Homo sapiens: one gene and its partners. The protein of the gene in region 1 purifies or fractionates together with the protein of each later gene. This does not show direct contact. Each region holds a gene or a part of one and is shown in the gene's direction. Other genes may lie near its edges. The genes, in order: C20orf203, CNRIP1 and POTEI.

What was found.
Region 2: the proteins of C20orf203 (region 1) and CNRIP1 purify together in Homo sapiens (affinity purification with mass spectrometry; 3 studies listed by BioGRID and IntAct, with this or other methods). This does not show direct contact.
Region 3: the proteins of C20orf203 (region 1) and POTEI purify together in Homo sapiens (affinity purification with mass spectrometry; 3 studies listed by BioGRID and IntAct, with this or other methods). This does not show direct contact.

Annotation. Positions count from the first base shown.
Region 1 is NC_000020.11:32,631,091-32,636,030, reverse strand, and holds the end of C20orf203 (uncharacterized protein C20orf203), read left to right. Parts: intron 1-1,760; 3' UTR 1,761-4,406; downstream 4,407-4,940.
Region 2 is NC_000002.12:68,316,870-68,324,768, reverse strand, and holds the start of CNRIP1 (CB1 cannabinoid receptor-interacting protein 1), read left to right. Parts: upstream 1-4,819; 5' UTR 4,820-5,368; coding exon 5,369-5,547; intron 5,548-7,451; exon of another isoform or gene 7,452-7,461; coding exon 7,462-7,612; intron 7,613-7,899.
Region 3 is NC_000002.12:130,458,954-130,464,450, reverse strand, and holds the end of POTEI (POTE ankyrin domain family member I), read left to right. Parts: intron 1-306; coding exon 307-1,635; 3' UTR 1,636-4,996; downstream 4,997-5,497.

The DNA of each region.
Region 1 (4,940 bases):
ACTGTGCCAGATGGAGAGAGAAAGCAGAGGGCATTCAGACAGGAACGGCAGGAGTCAGAGCACGTGGGCTCACTGTACACGGGATGGGAGGACGACACGTCATTCCGGGTGGCTCCCTGGGGGTTTTTGCTGGGCTGGGAGGCATGGCTCAGGAGGATGCTGGAAAGAGAAGTTGTGGCCTCATGGAGTTGCCTCCTAGAATCTGTCTCTGAAAATGAAAATGTGAGACTGGCCCACCATTACAAAATCAGAGAACACAGGAATGTTTATTTTAGACAGGGTCTTGCTCTGTCACCTAGGCAAGCGATCCTCCCACCTCAGCCTCCCGAGTAGCTGGGACTACAGGCACACACCACCATGCCCAGCTAATTTTTGTATTTTGTAGAGACAAGGTATCCTCATGTCCAGGCTGGTCTTGAACTCCTGGGCTCAAGCAATCCCCCCACCTCAGCCTCCCAAAGTGCTGGGGTTACAGGCATGAGCCATGGTGCCCAGCCGAGGAAATGATTATTATTATTTATTTATTTTTCTTTCTGAGATGGAATCTCACTCTGTCACTCAGGCTGGAGTGCAGTGGTGCGATCTTGGCCTTCTGCAACCTCCATCTCCCGGGTTCAAGCAATTCTGCCTCAGCCTCCCGAGTAGCTGGGATTACAGGCATGTGCCACCATGCCTGGCTAATTTTTGTATTTTTTAGTAGAGATGGGGTTTCACCATGTTAGTCGGGCTGCTCTTGAACTCCTGACCTCATGATCTGCCTGCCTCGGCCTCCCAAAGTGTTGGGATTACAGGCATGAGCCACCGTGTCTGGCCCATTTTTATTTATTTATTTATTTTGAGACACGGTCTCACTCTATTCCCCAGACTGGAGTGCAGTGGCACAATCTTGTCTCACTGCAACCTCCGCCTCCCAGGTGATTCTCCTGCCTCAGCCTCCTGAGTAGCTGGGATTACAGGCATGCACCACCATGCCCGGCTAATTTTTGTATTTTTGGTAGAGACAGAGTTTTGCCACATGGGCCAGGCTGGTCTCAAATTCCTGGCCTCAAGTGATCCGCCCACCTTGGCCTCCCAAAGTGTTGGGATTACATGTGTGAGAGACCGCGTCTGGCTGAAATTATTTTTAAAAAGGAACTACAACCCCCAGGTTAGTCCATCACCAGAGATAACCACTGTGAAGCATTTGACACATTTCTTCCTAATATCATTTCATATATATATATATATGCATATGTAGGTCTCCTAATAAAAAATAGTTTGCCTCTTGCTGTCTTTTACCTACAGTTACATCAGATGCATTGTCTGGTGCCTTTAAGTAGTCTCTGAAATCTGACTCCTCAGCCTTTTGGATGACTCCAGCCGGTGGTGGCCCTTTGACAAGTGTGGCCCCTTCTCGTGGCTGGGCACAGAGGCTGTTTCACTCGTTTTCTGTGATAAAAACACCGCAGTAAACATCCTCCGTCCTGCGTAACTTCATGTCCACATTGCTGATTGTTTTGTTGTGTTTTTTTCTGATAAATTTCTGGACATGAAATTCTCGGAAGCCCTGCTGGGCCCGGAGCTGGCTAGGTACTCGGGAGGGTGCTGGGCTTCCTAGAGCCACGCGTCCACACCTGAGGACAGCTTGGACCCAGCTGTAAGGAACAACGTGCACTTCTTGAATGTCTCACGCTGTCTTCCACCGCTTTGTCCATGATGTCACAGTACCTCTCGCCTCCCCTCCCAATGCCTGTCTTGCTAATTCTTTCTTATCTTTCCAGACTCCAGCATAACCTTCTCCAGGAAGCTTTTCCAGAGCCCCCAGGCTAGGAACCTCCCCCCAACCCCTGAACTCAAGCCCCAGCAGCCCGTGCCTGCGCCATCTCCATCAGAGCTGCATCTCTCTGGGTCTCTGGGTAACAAGTGCCATTTCTTTGTTGTTTTCTGTGTCCCCCAAGGACAAAGCTCAGGCTGGATTCATCTCGGAATTCCCAACACCGGGGTAGAACTGGCTCATTTCAATTTCAGTCAATGTTTGTTGAGGAAAGGAGTGAAGAGTTGGACACATGAATGAACGCATGAAACAGTCCGGAGTGGGGAAGCTGAAGCTCAGGCATCAGGATCCGGGAGAAGCATCCAGTCCAGGCGGACGGGGTGGAAGGTTCAGAGCAGGGGCCCCAAGTCAGGAGTAGGGAGGCAGACGGCAAGACCTCCTTCCATGAAAGGAGGCTGGGACCAGGGGACCAGGTAGTGCAACGCGGTGAGGGGGCTGTCAGGGCGACTGGCCGGAGGAGTCAGAGGCAGGAGGCACCACCAGGTTACAGACAAGGACCTTCTACAAGAGGGAAACGTGTCATGGGCTCTGGAGCCCCTGTCCAGGTTCAAATTGTGACCCTGTGCCAGGGACAGCTTCTTTGTGCCTCAGTTTTTCCCATAAAATGAGGATAATAATACTTCATTCATGCCTTTTTTTCCCCTCAACAAACATTTGTTGTATGTCTGCTGTGGGCCCAGGACAGGAGGCTGAGAAGGAGCTGACCACAGTGGTCACACAGCCAAGCCCTGCTGCTGAGATCTGACCCCAGTTCGCCTGTCACAAGTTCTATCTGTGCCTCGTTGTCTGCCTCCTGGGGCTGTTATGAGGGCTGAAGAAGGGGCAGGCACAGAGGAGACACTTACTATATGATCATTGTCCTCCTAGAGTATCATCACCATCAGGTGGACTTCAGTGGCCATCCCAGGCCTCCACGGATCAACCACAAGATCTTGGAGAATGTCCTTACCCTCCAAGCCTCAGTTTACCTTTAGGGTGACCAACCATCCTGGTTTGTCCAAAACTGAGGGTTTTCCTGGCACAGTCCCAGGCAAACTGGGATGGTGAGTCACTGATATAGTTTGACTCTGTGTCCCCACCAAATCTCACCTTGAATTTTAATAATCCCTAGGTGTCAAGAGCAGGACCAAGTAGAGATAATTGAATAATGGTGGCAGTTTCCCCCATGCTGTTCTCATGATAGTGAGTGAGTTCTCACGAGATCTGATGGTTTTATAAGCAGCTTCCCCCTTTGCTCAGTATCACTCTCCCTCCTGCCGCCCTGTGAAGAGCTGCCTTCCACCATGATTGTAAGTTTCCTGAGGCCTCCCCAGCCACGCAGAACTGTGAGTCAATTAAACCTCTTTTCTTTATAAATTACCCCAGTCTCGGGCATTTCTTCACAGCAGCGTGAGAACAGACTAATCCCGTCACCCTGGTTTCCTCATCTCTAACACAGGGACCACCTGCCTCCCAGGGCTGTTGTGCAGAACAGAAATAAGCCTATGGAAAAGGCAGAAAACCATGGAGCCAGAATTCTAGATCTGGTTACATGAATACTAAAGACTTTTGCATGCCATGGAATTCTAGGCATGAAAAAGAACGAGGCGGTCCCGTGTACTGCTGTGGAAGAAGCTCTGAGATACATGTTTTTTTTGTGAAAAAGGCCAGATACAGCGCACTTTGTGGGGAGCGCTTCTGTTAGTACCAAGGAGGGGGCAGGAACACACGTGCATGTGCTCCAGTGCGCACATGGGTTCTCCCGGGCGGGGACTGGGGGCTGAGGAGAAAAGACTTGTTTTTCACTGTACATCCCTTTGCTTTGTTTGAATTATTTTACCCCTTTGTTTTCAGTAGCTGGCCGAAAAACTTCCCAAGCTTCCATGTGTCAAAAAGAACTCACTGAACGAGATTTAAAGGCCAAAGTTAGGGAGTAGGAAATGTGTCTAGCTCAGGGCCCAGCATCTAAGGAGTGCTCCATGAAAGGCCTTCTCCCCTCTCCCACTCCTGACCTTGCTGACTGCTGGGAGTGCAGGGGCACAGACGGGCTGTTGCCTCCCCCAGTGCGGTATTTGTGAGGCTCAAATGCAAGCCCAGGCTGGGGAGACTGCTCTGGGTTCCACGCGGCATCCTGCCTAAGCCCTGGGGGTCCTAGAGGTCACTGGCTCCCTTCTCTGCCTGCATGTCTCAGGTCGCCCTCTGGCCAATTCTGAAGTCCTGCCCTGCCTCAAGGAGCAGAGGTGGCAGAGGTGGGCCCACCGCACAGGGTAAATGTCCCGGTGTCACATACCTCCAGATTGCAGGGACCTGCGTATGCTACTGCTGCTGTGGAAACCAGCTCTCTCTGGCTCTGGCCTTGGGGAGAGGGAGCCACAGTGGATTTAGGAAGAGTCTCCAGATGTAGCTTGAGACTACCAAACAGGCCTGACCCCCACAGACCCTGCCTCTTATGAGCGCCCAGACTGAGCCCTGCTTCAGGCTCCCAGCCATGTGGCCAGCTGCTTTTCTTCTTTAATTTTTAGCATCAGACGAATATTTCAGGAAAATATTCTCATTGTAAAATCTCAAACATTAATAAAATGTAGTGAATAAAAGGCCATGTAATTCCTCTTTACCTCCTGAGCCCCATTCTGTTTAAACCATTGTTGTCAGCTGGTCAGTGTATATACCTATACCTATGCCATGCCTATACCAATACCTATACCAATATCTGTAACTATACCTATGCCACTACCTATGCCTGTGTCGTGCCTGTACCAACACCTATACCTAGACTATCTATATTTATATCTGTTTAGATGTGCATATTGTGTTTAGGTATGCGTCTCACGTGAGTAGTAACATTCTGTATGTTTTGTTCTGCAAGATGCTTTCTTTTTCTTTTTCTTTTTTTCTTTTTTTTTTTTTTTTTTTTTTTTTAGATAGAGACTCATTCTGTTGCCCAGGCTGGAGTGCAGTGGCTCAATCTTGGCTCACTGCAACCCCTGCCTCCCAGGTTCAAGCGATTCTCATGCCTCAGCCTCCCAAGTCGCTGGGATTACAGGTGCACACCACCACACCCAGCTAATTTTTGTATTTTTAGTAGAGGCGGGGTTTCACCATGTTGGCCAGGCTGGTCATGAACTCCTGAGCTCAAATGATCCTTCTG
Region 2 (7,899 bases), on another chromosome or scaffold:
GAAAAAAAAAAAAAAAAAAAAAAGTAACCCTCAGGGAGAATGAATTTGAGGTTAAAAAAATTGAGAATTCACTTTTAGCCATGTTATGCTTGGGACACCTGTTAACCTATCAGACACGCATGTAGAGATATTCTGTCAGGAGTTGGTTATGTGAATCTGGAACTTAGACAAATGTTTGAACCTGGAGATATAAAATTAGAAGTATCGGTGTGGTAGAAATAATACAGATATTTCCACCTAATGTAAGGAGGTTTGTGTTCTTTTTCAATGGAACTCTAGCCAGCCTCACAAAAGGAGTCAAGAACAGGAAAAGTAGAAAACTATCTTCATGGAATCTAGTTTTAATTGAGTATTTACTTTCATTTGTGGAGAAAAAGTGAGTGGAGCTGTCCTGGTTGTTCAGGAAAGATAACATTTATGTAGGGAAACAGCAAAAGTATTATTTGGAACATAAAGTGCTATGCTAAATTGGCCCAGAACAAAATACGAAACTGACATTATGATCGCCATCACCTGACCAAGGTGCATGTGACTGTATAAGGAGGTAACCAGATCCCCTAAGAGCCTAGCAGACAAATGAGGTCTACTGCTTATTGCCATGGCTACAAAATCCTTTGGGTCTAAGGGAGGACCTAGGTTCTTCAGAATTGGTCCAGGAGGATGGCTTTGTCTTTATGTCTGTTAAATCTAGCCAGAAAGAAAGCCCTGATATAAATGTAAAGTGTACCTGGCTGGGCACTGTGACCCACATCTGCAATCCCAACACTTTGGGAGGCTGAGGCAGGTGGATCACTTGAGGTCAGGAGTTCAAGACCAGCCTGACCAATATAGTGAAACCCTGTCTCTGCTTTAAAACATACAAAAAAAATTAGCTGGGCATGGTGGCACGTATCTATAATCCCAGCTACTCAGAAGGCTGAGGCATAAGAATTGCTTGAACCTGGGAGGCAGAGGTTGCAGTGAGCTGTGATTGCACCACTGCTCTCCAACATGGGTGACAGAGCTAGACTCCATCTCAAAAATAAAAGTAAAATAAAATAAAATAAAATGTAAAATGTACCAGTTAAGATCTCTAATGCTAAGACATTCTGAGGTAGGCAAAGGGAAGGAGTCAAGCACCTCATAAATCATTGACACTAATTTAAGAATAAAAATAAGAAATAACTCCTGCAGATGTTAAACTGTACCTGAATGCAAACATGAATACAAAGGAAAATACATTGTTAAATGTGCTGGTATTATATTGTGTATATGTGTTTGTGTGTGTGTATAACCCAAGCCCAGGACACATTATGACACATGACATAATTGAGTGTATACATATGTATGTGTATAACCCAGTCCCAGCACTCTTAACTACGTTATTTTCATATACATGCACACAACTATGTCCTGTGTCATAATTCTAACTGTTTTTGAACTCTATATTATGAATTCAGCAGAGACTGGAACAGCGAATATGGAACGGTTGTTAGCACAATGTCTTAGTCTGTTCATGCTGTTATAACAAAATATCTTAGCCTGGATAATTTATAAACAACAGAAATTTATTGCTTACGATTCTGGAGGCTTGGAAGTCTAAGGTCAAGGCACCAGCAAATTTGGTATCTGGTGAGGGTTCACTGTTTGCTTTATAGATGGCAAATTCCCGCTGCATCCATACATGGTAGAAGGGGGCAAACGACCTCCCTCAAGCCCCTTTTACAAGGGTACTACTAATCCCATTCACGTGGGCAGAAGAGCCCTTATGACCTAATCACCTCCAAAAGAACCCACTTCTTAATACTATTGCTTTGTGGATTCGGTTTCAACATAGCCATTTTGGGGGAACACAAGCAGCTGGGAGGCTGAGGCAGGAGAATCGTTTGAACCATAGCATGTGATTCCTCTGAATGACAACTAAGTCCATCGTTCACTTGGGCTCAATTTCACAGTTTTCAAAAGAATGATAATAAGCATTGTCCATTAGACAGACAATGTTTAAGATCACCAATCTGAGGTAATAATTAAAGAATCTACAATAAGACTGAAAGCACTAGATACCTTAAAAATATATAGCAAGAAATGAATTAATGCAGGAAAAAAAAGCCAAATACCGCATGTTCTCATTTTTAGTGGGTGCTAACCATTGGGTACCCATGGACATAAAACAGTTTTTCAACCCTTACTTGTCTCCCTCCCTCCCTGGCTAGTAGTCTTCATTCCATTGGTAACAATAGACACTGAGGACTTGGATGATGGGATCATTTCTACTCCAAACCTCAGCATCATGCAATACGCTCCAGTAACAAACCTGAATCTAAACTAAAAGTTGCTACATATTCAGCAAGTATATTTTTAAATAAAAATAGTTACAATGTATTGAGTGTCTCTATGGGCCTGATATTCTTGCATAGTTTACACAATTTCATTTGGTTCTATATGCATCATCTATGTCACCATCATCATTTTACAAATGAAGAAACTGGGGCTCCAAGAGACTAAAGCAGCTTTGCTCAAGGTCACTCAGTTTGTAATCCACAGATCTGGCAACACAAACACAGATCCATCAGACTCCATATTCATATTCTTTGCACATATGTATCAGTGATGATAAATTTTCCAATTACTTTTACATTTATTAATTTCATTTTAAGACATTACATTGTATGGTCCTGAAAATGCTATTCCTAATGGATATTGCCCAGCATTAGTAACACCTCGTATTTGAAAAGTAATTTATTTTTTTCAAACAATTTCCATTTCCTCATTCAATTCTCACAATGTTGGGAAGGAGGTATTTTAATCCTCATTTTACAAAGATGAAACATAAAGATGTTAAGTTATTTGCATAACGAAACTAAAAAGTGGCAGAGTTAGGTTTTTTTTATTTTATTTATTTATGAGATGGCAGTCTTACTATTTTGTCCATACTGGCCTCAAACTCGTCGGCTTAAGTGATCTTCCCACCTTAGCCTCCCAAGTAGTGGGGACTGCAAGAGTGCACTACCTAGCCAGGCTAGAACCAGAGTTTTTGTTTTTGTTTTTGTGTGGGTTTTTTTTTTTTTTTTCAGATGGAGTCTCACTTTGTTGCCCAGACTGGAGTGCAGTGGCATGATCTCGGCTCACTATAAGCTCTGCCTCCCCAGCTCAAGCGATTCTCATGCCTCAGCCTCCCAAGTAGCTGGGACTACAGGCATGCGCCACCACGCCTGGCTAATTTTTTGTATTTTTAGTAGAGACAGGTTTTGCCATTTTGGCGAGGCTGGTCTTGAACTCCTGGCCTCAAATGATCTGCCCTCCTTGGTCTCCCAAAGTGCTGGGATTCCAGGCATGAGCCACCATGCCGGCCTTAGAACCAGGTTTTAAAATGGAGTCATCATCCTCCAGGTCCAATGCTCTTTTTGATACACAGGTGGAAGTTGGCTTGAGATTGTGGGGTTGCTAAACAAAAGGTTGAGGAAAAAAGGCAAAATTTCCAAAAAGGCTTTTAAATGACCCCAAAAAGATACTCACCCTCTTTCCACTACTCATAAACCATAATAACCAACATTAAGTTTACTGTGTAACTCTCTCATTCTTTTAAAAGAGCTAATACAAACATACACATTTATATTCTTTTTAAATTTTCATTTTTCTAAAACACTAGAGATGCTACTTGCAATTAGATTTCTTTTCATCATTCCAGGTAAATCGCAAGGATCTAATTAATTTTAAAGATGTGAAAGAATTTACATATGGACATGATTAAGACCACAACCGTAAGTCAATTCAACAACGATTTCTGGAGCACCTACTATGTGTCAGGCACTATTTTGGCATGCTGGGGAAACAGCAACAAACAAAACAGACAAAATGCTCGCCCTCAGGCTTTGTTTCCCAGCCATCCCACTTTTATCATTAACAGTTTTTGCCTGTGTGTTTGCCAATGCAACCTATATTTCATTATTTTGATAGTTGTGTAACGTTCTATAGTGTGGGTATATAAGAATTTATTCAGCCATTTATTTATTGGTTAACATTTCATTTAGGTTTTATTTTTATTTTTGCAACCAATGTTGCAATAAACACCCATATTACATATATATTATATGTATAGCTTATTATTTCTTAAAAAAGAGCAGTCTAACTTGGGTAAACAAAAACTGCCAAGGAAACGCATCCCTACCCATTTGTTCTCACTAGCCCACTTCATTTCCCAGGTGTGCTCCCTGGCTCTGGTACTATCCATCTGGGTGGTGCTGAAGCAGGTGCTCTCTCTGCTCCGGGAAGCCATTCCCAGTATAGTCCTCACCCCCTGAGTCTCCCCTCGCTTCCAAAAGTCAGCTGTCTACCGACCTCTGCCACGAAAACTGTCTAATCACGCTTAATATGCAAATCTAAACTCTGCGGTGTCGCATATGGCCCCCTGCCAATAATCCTTTGACCCATCCCACCTCTTGGCCATTTTGTCACCAGAATGCCTTAGGCTCATGTCAGTTGCCTTTTACAGGGTTAATAGCTCACCCTTCAAAATCTGTGTAAATATATGTGATTCATTACATATATTTATGTATGTGTCATTTTTGGGACGAGCATACGTATAATGGAAATGTACACCCACAAGAAGATGTAGCTCCTTGAATATGGTTATTTTCTTCCTCTTGCATCCATTCCTCATCCAGCGTGGCTCCATCACGTGGAATTGCGCCTTTCCTCGGCCATTTCCCCTAAGCTTTGGAAAGACTCATATTTCCTGAAATTTAAATCACCGGCTAGCGGTTTCCTGTCCCCCCTTCCCGCCTCCCTTTACCCCCCCTCAGCCTCCTCCCGCCTGGCTGGCGCCGGATCCGCGAGCAGCAGTGTCCACCTCACGTAGCTGGCCGAGGCGGTATCCAGATTCCGGGGGTCTCGCTCCTTGGCATAGTGGTCGCTTAACTCCAGCGCCTTCCCAGTGCCTCCCAAACCTCTCCTCCTCCTGCCCGGGGCTGTTCTAGGAGGAGCCTAAATGTCCGCTTCCCCAGCTGAAGGGGATTGTGGTGCGTAAACAGGATTAACTCCCTCGCCCCCAGCTGCGCGGATCTGCGCGGCGGCCTGCGGGCCAGAGCGAGCCTTCGGGTGCGTGGAGGGCGCAGCACTGGAGCGGGGGATGGGGAAGCGCGCGGCCTTGGAGCCGTCTCTTGGGCCCGCTTCCTCGCCGAGTGGGGAGGGGGGCCACAGCCTAAGGAGCTGCTCCTCAAAAGCCCGGGCGGACGGCGGCGACGGCGCGGGTTCCTAGCGGCAGCCTCAGCTCCACCACCTCCCTCACCCTCCCCGCGCTTCCTCTCCGCCCCTCGCGCTCCAGCCACTCGGCCGCAGCCGGCGCTGTCCTCCGCCCCCCGGAGCCGCCGCGCCAGACCCTCGCCCAGACATGGGGGACCTGCCGGGCCTCGTGCGCCTCTCCATCGCGCTGCGCATCCAGCCTAATGACGGCCCGGTCTTTTACAAGGTGGACGGGCAGCGCTTCGGCCAGAACCGCACCATCAAGCTGCTCACCGGCTCCTCCTACAAGGTTGAGGTGAAGATTAAACCCAGCACGCTGCAGGTCGAGTGAGTGCGGGGCGCCTGGTGGCAGCAGGGTCCCCCATGGGGTACAGGCAGAGGACTGAGGCCCCCAGGACAGCCCGAGCCTCTCAAGGGCCTCTGGCCTCGCGCCGCTCCCAGCGGGCCCGGGGGTTGGAGGAAGAGGTCACTCCCTGTCCGCCTTCGTCCCCTTCCTTCCCTTTGGCTTGTATTCCTCCATTCTCGCTTCCCTCCACCCATCGCAGTGACCTCAGTGGGTTCTTTAAAATCAGTGACAAGAAGCCAGGGTTTTTGCTTGTCTGTTTCTTATAAATTTCTCCTGCCTTCTGTCCAGCCTTGGGCGCGGAACCGCAGGCGGTCGGGGTGGAGCAGATGGGAGAGGTCCGCAGGGTTCAGCCACCGCAATCCCAGCCCTCCTGCGCGCGGTCCAGGCGGCCCACAGGGTCTGCCCGCAAGGCTGAAGGAGGGAGAAAGGAGGAATGAGGTGGAAAGGCAGGGGAGGGGTGATTACTGGGGCTCCCTGAGGGATGCTCCCCACTCCCTTCGCCATTCAGTGGCTGGGACCCTGGGGTGGAGCAGCAGACACTAGTAAGAGAGCGGCCGCCCCTTCTCTGGCCTAGTTTCACGGTTTTCCATGCCGTATGCTGTTCTTTTTCTCCTGAGTTTTCTGTTCAGGCTGGTGATGGTGCCTGGGATTAGCAACATCCCCACAGCAAGAGGATGTTTTTTGGTTTATCCATGGCAGGGACGATTTCTTGCCAGCGACCGCTGGATAATGCACCCAGTAGACCTCTGGCGGGAAAGTGTGTGGGAGCATGCAGTAGCCTACCCGGAAGAACTGCGGGTGGAGCCCCTTTACCTCTCGTTTCTACCTACCAAAGTCTAGTCTGCAGAGAGAAAATAAACCAGCATTTATTGTATCTACTACATATGGTGGGCATTATTGCGGGGGTGGAAGGACTTTGAATTCATCAGATACTACTTATAGCTTACGTTTTAATTCAGTAAACTTGTATTAGCCTTCCAAGGTGCAAGGACCTAGAACCAAATCTGGATGGTTTCTGGTACTCCTGATTCATCTATTTGTCAGCATCCCCCACAGCTCCATGCACCCTTTATTCTCACATTTCCCAGTGTTCTGTGCACCTGGATATAATCCAGGCTTTTCCTTTCCCTTCTTTCCTGCCAACCTTATCCCCGGAGTTATCTGTTAATATATTTCTTTTTTTTTTTTTTAGAGTATTCCTCTAGTGTTCAAACTAATCTAAAAGTTAATTTGTTAGGAATAAAACTATTTTTTCTGGTTACATTTTAATGCTATCAAGGATTTCTCAACTCTAATCCTGTGGTTCTCAAACCTGAGTATATATCAGAATCACCTGGAGTGCTTGTTAAAACACAGATGCTGGAGCTCTCCCTAGAAGTTCTAGTTTAGTCTATGGTAGGGCCTAAGAATTTGTTTTCTAAGGTCTGCAGGTGATGCTGATACTGCTGGTCCAGGGACTTGGCTTTGAGAACCATTATCCTAACACAAAAGAATGATGCCAGTGAGAATTTCTGATGGTGTAGAAGGCTTGAGGTACTCCAAATCATAGGACCCCTGATTGTTGGAACAGGAGAAAAAAAATATTAGAGGACGAGTTCAGTATTCTCAATCCTACCTGCATATTAAGATCACCTAGATAACCTTAAAATAAATGTACCAGTGTCCAAACTACATCCCAGGCCAACTGAATCCTAATGTCTGGGGCTGGGGATAGGTAGGTTTTTAATTCATAAATAGGAGAAGCACTGCCCCCTGAACTTGCAGAACTTTCTCCCGCACCACAATGCCCCCCTTAGTGAAACCCTGTAAGTTTCCTGCCTAGAGTTTTGGTCCAAAACAGGACAGGGTGCCTAGGCTAATTTCAACCGTATGTGGTCAACTCAAGTCTATTGCAGGAATATTTCCATTGGTGGTGTGCTTGTCCCACTGGAACTGAAGTCTAAAGAGCCTGATGGGGACAGAGTTGTTTATACGGGTACATATGACACAGAAGGTGTGACCCCAACGAAGAGTGGAGAACGGCAACCCATCCAGATCACCATGCCGGTAAGGCTTGCTTGCGGGTATAGGAGTATGGTGCCATGGAAAATGGAAACCACAGAAAAGAAAACAATCACTATCTCTCTGTAAGAAAAGGTGTGTTGGGAGCCAATTACTGTGGAAATTGAGTTGTGGATTTCCTTCAAGCATCTGCTGGAGAGAGAACTACTTAATTAATGCTCTTTTGCATGACAGACTGACCCTGTAGATGCTGAAAAGACACCATAAGCAGAAGCAGATGGTTCTGGAAGAGACAGAACCTACATTGCCATTTTCCCAGTTATAGTCTACTT
Region 3 (5,497 bases), on another chromosome or scaffold:
TTCTGGGATTCTTAAAAATCCTCTAGTGATTTATTTTTCATCGTCTTTAAATAAATATTTAAACTTTTAGGAATTTAGGAGCAGATTCCTAAAAGTTTAAATATTTATTTAAAGGCGATGAAAAATAAATCACTGGAGGAATTTACACTCTTATTAGGTTTGAAGTTTTGTCCAATTTTTTTCCAGTTAAATATCCACTATGGGGATTCTTTCATTATACAAATACATGTTATTTTTGAATTTCAGAAGAAATAATGATATGTCAATCTATTGAGTGCTAACTAAAAGTTCTCTTTGTTTACTTAGCTTTCTCTTAGTTGTAAGAAAGAAAAAGACTTCTTGCATGAAAATAGTACGTTGCGGGAAGAAATTGCCATGCTAAGACTGGAGCTAGACACAATGAAACATCAGAGCCAGCTAAGAAAAAAGAAATATTTGGAGGATATTGAAAGTGTGAAAAAAAAGAATGATAATCTTTTAAAGGCTCTACAATTGAATGAGCTCACCATGGATGATGATACCGCCGTGCTCGTCATTGACAACGGCTCTGGCATGTGCAAGGCCGGCTTTGCGGGCGACGATGCCCCCCGGGCTGTCTTCCCTTCCATCGTGGGGCGCCCCAGGCAGCAGGGCATGATGGGGGGCATGCATCAGAAAGAGTCCTATGTGGGCAAGGAGGCCCAGAGCAAGAGAGGCATCCTGACCCTGAAGTACCCCATGGAACACGGCATCATCACCAACTGGGATGACATGGAGAAGATCTGGCACCACACCTTCTACAACGAGCTGCGTGTGGCCCCTGAGGAGCACCCCATCCTGCTGACCGAGGCCCCCCTGAACCCCAAGGCCAACCGCGAGAAGATGACCCAGATCATGTTTGAGACCTTCAACACCCCAGCCATGTACGTGGCCATCCAGGCCATGCTGTCCCTGTACACCTCTGGCCGTACTACTGGCATCGTGATGGACTCTGGTGACGGGGTCACCCACACTGTGCCCATCTATGATGGGAATGCCCTCCCCCATGCCACCCTGCGCCTAGACCTGGCTGGGCGGGAACTGACTGACTACCTCATGAAGATCCTCACCGAGCGTGGCTATAGGTTCACCACCATGGCCGAGCGGGAAATCGTGCGTGACATCAAAGAGAAGCTGTGCTATGTTGCCCTGGACTTCGAGCAGGAGATGGCCATGGCGGCCTCCAGCTCCTCCCTAGAGAAGAGCTACGAGCTGCCCGATGGCCAGGTCATCACCATCGGCAACGAGTGGTTCCGCTGCCCCGAGGCGCTCTTCCAGCCTTGCTTCCTGGGCATGGAATCCTGTGGCATCCATGAAACTACCTTCAACTCCATCATGAAGTCTGATGTGGACATCCGCAAAGACCTGTACACCAACACAGTGCTGTCTGGCGGCACCACCATGTACCCTGGCATGGCCCACAGAATGCAGAAGGAGATCGCTGCCCTGGCGCCTAGCATGTTGAAGATCAGGATCATTGCTCCTCCCAAGCGCAAGTACTCCGTGTGGGTCGGTGGCTCCATCCTGGCCTCGCTGTCCACCTTCCAGCAGATGTGGATCAGCAAGCAGGAGTATGATGAGTCAGGCCCCTCCATTGTCCACCGCAAATGCTTCTAGGTGGACTCTGACTTAGTTGCGTTACACCCTTTCTTGACAAAACCAAACTTCTCAGAAAACAACATGAGATTGGCATGGCTTTATTTGTTTTCTTGTTTCATTTTTTGTTTTGTTTTTTATTGGCTTGACTCAGGATTTAAAAACCGGAATGGTGAAGGTGACAGCAGTCGGTTGGAGGAAGCTTCCTCCAAAGTTCTACAATGTGGCCAAGGACTTTGATTGTACATTGTTCTTCTTTTCAATAGTCATTCCAAATATTGTGAGACGCATTGTTTCAGGAAGCCCCTTGCCCTGCTAAAAGCCACCCCACTTCTCTCTAAGGAGAATGGCCCAGTCCTCTCCCTAGTTCACACAGGGGAGGTGATAGCATTGCTTTTGTGCAGATTACATAATGCAAAATTTTTTGAATCTTCGCCTTAATACTTTTTAATTTTGTTTTATTTTGAATGATCAGCCTTCGTGGCCCCCCTCTTTTGTACCCCAACTTGGGGTGTATGAAGGCTTTTGGTCTCCCTGAGAGTGGCTGGAGGCAGCCAGGGCTTACCTGTACTCTGACTTGAGGAGAGTTGGATAAAAGTGCACACCTTAAAAAAAATTGAGGAAGCACAGTATTTCAGTACAGTGGACAGCTTAGCATGTTGACAACTGAGAATAAAATGCTCAGTTCTGAACTGGACAATGTAAGACACAACGAGGAAACACCGGAAATGGAAATTCAATTACGTCATTGTAGACTGGCTGCTGCTCTACATGATTGTGACCAAAGTCAGATAGCTGAAAGAGACTTCTTTCCAGAGAACAAGACATGAACAGGTTTATTTACAGAAGACAATGAATTCTCATTTATCTCACCTAAAAGAGAACAGATTCTTTCTCAACAAGTCTAACGTAGACAGTAAAATCAACAGGCTAAAAATTAAGCTCCATGAAACAAGATAAAACTCTGAGAGAAAAGACGGGGCAGGCCGCCATCTTTCCCGTTCAGGCAACTTAGTCATTCCAGCCTGCGGGCTTTGGAGAGTACAAACCGACGAGGGACAGAAGAGATCCCACAGCACAGCATAGCTGCTTTACCAAATCATGGCCAGACTGCTTCTGTAAGCAGGCCCCTGATCCTGTTCCATCTCACTGGACAGGACCTCCCAACTGGGGCCTCCAGCTACCCCCACCAGCATTCCTTGGCCAATGGAAATGTGAAATGTTCCTGGGACAGAGCTCCCGGAGAGGGGCAGGCCCCCACCTTTGCTCTTTCGGTGACTAGCCATTCTGGCCTGCGGGCTTTGGAGAGCCCAAGCTGACAAGGGGTGGAAGAGGTACCTCAGCACAGCACAGCCACGCTACCAAAACGTGGCCAGACTCTTGTTTACGTCAGTCCCTGACCACATTTCTAGTCAGTGGGTGAAGTCTTTCAACCAGGGTCTCTGGCTACCTTGACTGCTGTTCTCTGGCCGACAGAGGTCTCAGGCCTCCCTGAGTCAGAGCTCCCAGGGGGAGGACCAGATTGTCATCTTTGCTGTTGGGGCGACCCAGGCATTTCAGCCTTAGGGCTTCAGAGTGTCTGAGGCGGACCAGGGGCTGAAGTGAACCCCCAGCACAGCACAGCTGCTCTATAAAAACGTGGCCAGACTTTTCTTTTTGAAGCAAGTCCCTGTTCTTGTTCGTCCTGACTAGGTAAGACTTCTCAACTTGCCTCCAGCCACATCTTATAGGTGTGTTCAGATTGGCAACAGGTTCGTACCTCAGTGGTACAGAGCTTCCAGAGGAAGGGGCAGACTATCATCTTCCCTGGAAAATACAAGGCAATTAGGGACTGGAGGGGACCCCCAGCATACCACAGCAGCCCTACAGAAAAGTGGCCAGGCTCTCTACTTGATGGGCAGATCCTCCTGGCCTGGGTCTCTAGCCAGCCCACCACTGGAGCTATCAAGCCAGTAGCAACTCTGCAGTTCCTGGGACAGAGCTTCCAGGAGCAAATGAAATCCTTTCTGCCACTGCCTCTGCAGTGGAACTGCCCTTGCTGCCCTCAGAAGATGCAAGGGAGCAAAGACCCTAAGTGCCCTATCAACACCTCCAATAAGCTGCAGTTGACCCAAAGAACAAGCCAGTCCATCTCCCACGGGTACCACACACCCTCCACTACTCATCACCAGACAGGGAACCCTGGCTTGGGCCCACAGCACAGACCCTCCATCCTGGGCTGATTACACTAAGTGATTGCTAACTCACATGTCTCTGGGATGGAGCACCCAGGAAACAAGCAAAGTGGTGGAGCAGCAAGTCAGGTGATGTGGAGCCCAGAGGTCAGGGATGGCTGTCTCTCTAGGGTCCACTTGCCCTTGTGAGACACTTTATCCCAGCACTTTAGGAATACTGAGGTCATACCAGCCACATCTTATATGCAAGATTGCCCAGCAGAGATCAGGTCCGAGAGTTCCCTTTTTAAAAAAAGGAGACTTGCTTAATAAAAGAAGTCTAGCCACGTTTGTGTAGAGCGGCTGTGCTGTGCTGGGGGTTCACTTTTGAGAGAGTTCTCCTCTGAGACCTGATCTCTGGAGGCTGGGCAATCTTGCACTTGAGATGGGGCTGGTCTGATCTCAGCACTCCTTAGTCTGCTCGCCTCTCCCATGGCCCCAGCCTGGCCACACCTGCTTACGGGGCACTCTTAGATGCCCACACCATAGCTTCCGTGCTAGTGGACTGTACCATATCAGTGGAGAGCTGCAGCAAGGTGGCCCCTAGAGCCACGCACCAGCCTGCACATTGCCTCTCCATACGGCAGCCCTTTATTTGGAAACTTCCTAAATCACTTTGCTGTGTGTGTTTACACGGGTGGGTTTTGCTTTACTTGCCCTGAGAGCACACAGGAGTGCAGCACACACCCCAACCCACATCAACTGCCATTAAAGAAAAGAAATTTCAGCCCAGAATTTCATGTCCAGCAAAATTAAGCATCATAAGTGAAGGAGAAATAAGATCCTTTTCAGACAAGCAAGTGCTGAGGGAATTTGGTATCACCAGATCTACCTTACGAGAGCTCCTGAAGGAAGCACTAAATATGGAAAGAAAAGATCATCACCTGCTACTACAAAAACACACTGAAGTACACAGTCCAATGATGCTAAAAAGCAAGCACATATGTAAGTCTGCAAAATAACCAGCTGACAGCATGACGACAGGATAAAATCCACACATACCATTACTAACCTTAAATGTAAATGGGCTAAATGCTCCCATTGAAAGACACGGGGCAAGCTGGGTAAAGAACCAAGACCCACTGGAGTATGCCGTCTTCAAGCAACCCATCTCACGTGCAGTGCCATACATAGGCTCAAAATAAAGGAATGGAGAAAAATATTTCAAGCAAATGGAAAACAGAAAAAAGGTGTTGCACTCCCAGTTTCTGACAAAACAGACTCTACCAATAAAGATAAAAAAAGAGAAGGACATTACAAAGGTGGTCCTGACCTTTGATAAATCTCATTATTGCTTGATACCAACCTGGGCTATTTGTATTGCCCAAACCAATAGGATAATTTGCTGAGGTTGTGGAGCTTCTCCCCTTCACAGAGTCCCTGATCTCCGAAAATTTGGTTGAGATGTAAGGTTGATTTTGCTGTACAACTCCTTTTTTGAAGTTTTACTCATTTCCAACAAGGAAGGCAAGTTTTCCTGCTTCCATTGACAAAGGAGAGCAGGCACCTCCTTTCCTGAGTTTCAGCTTGCTTCTGACAGGGAAGGTGAGTGTAAGTTTTTCCAGCTTCTAAGATGGCAGAGAATGATCACCCAGTCTGAGCCTTATTTCCAGGTAAGTAGCTGAATTAGAGTTTTGTCTTAAAATTTTTCCTTAATGACTAAAATTTAA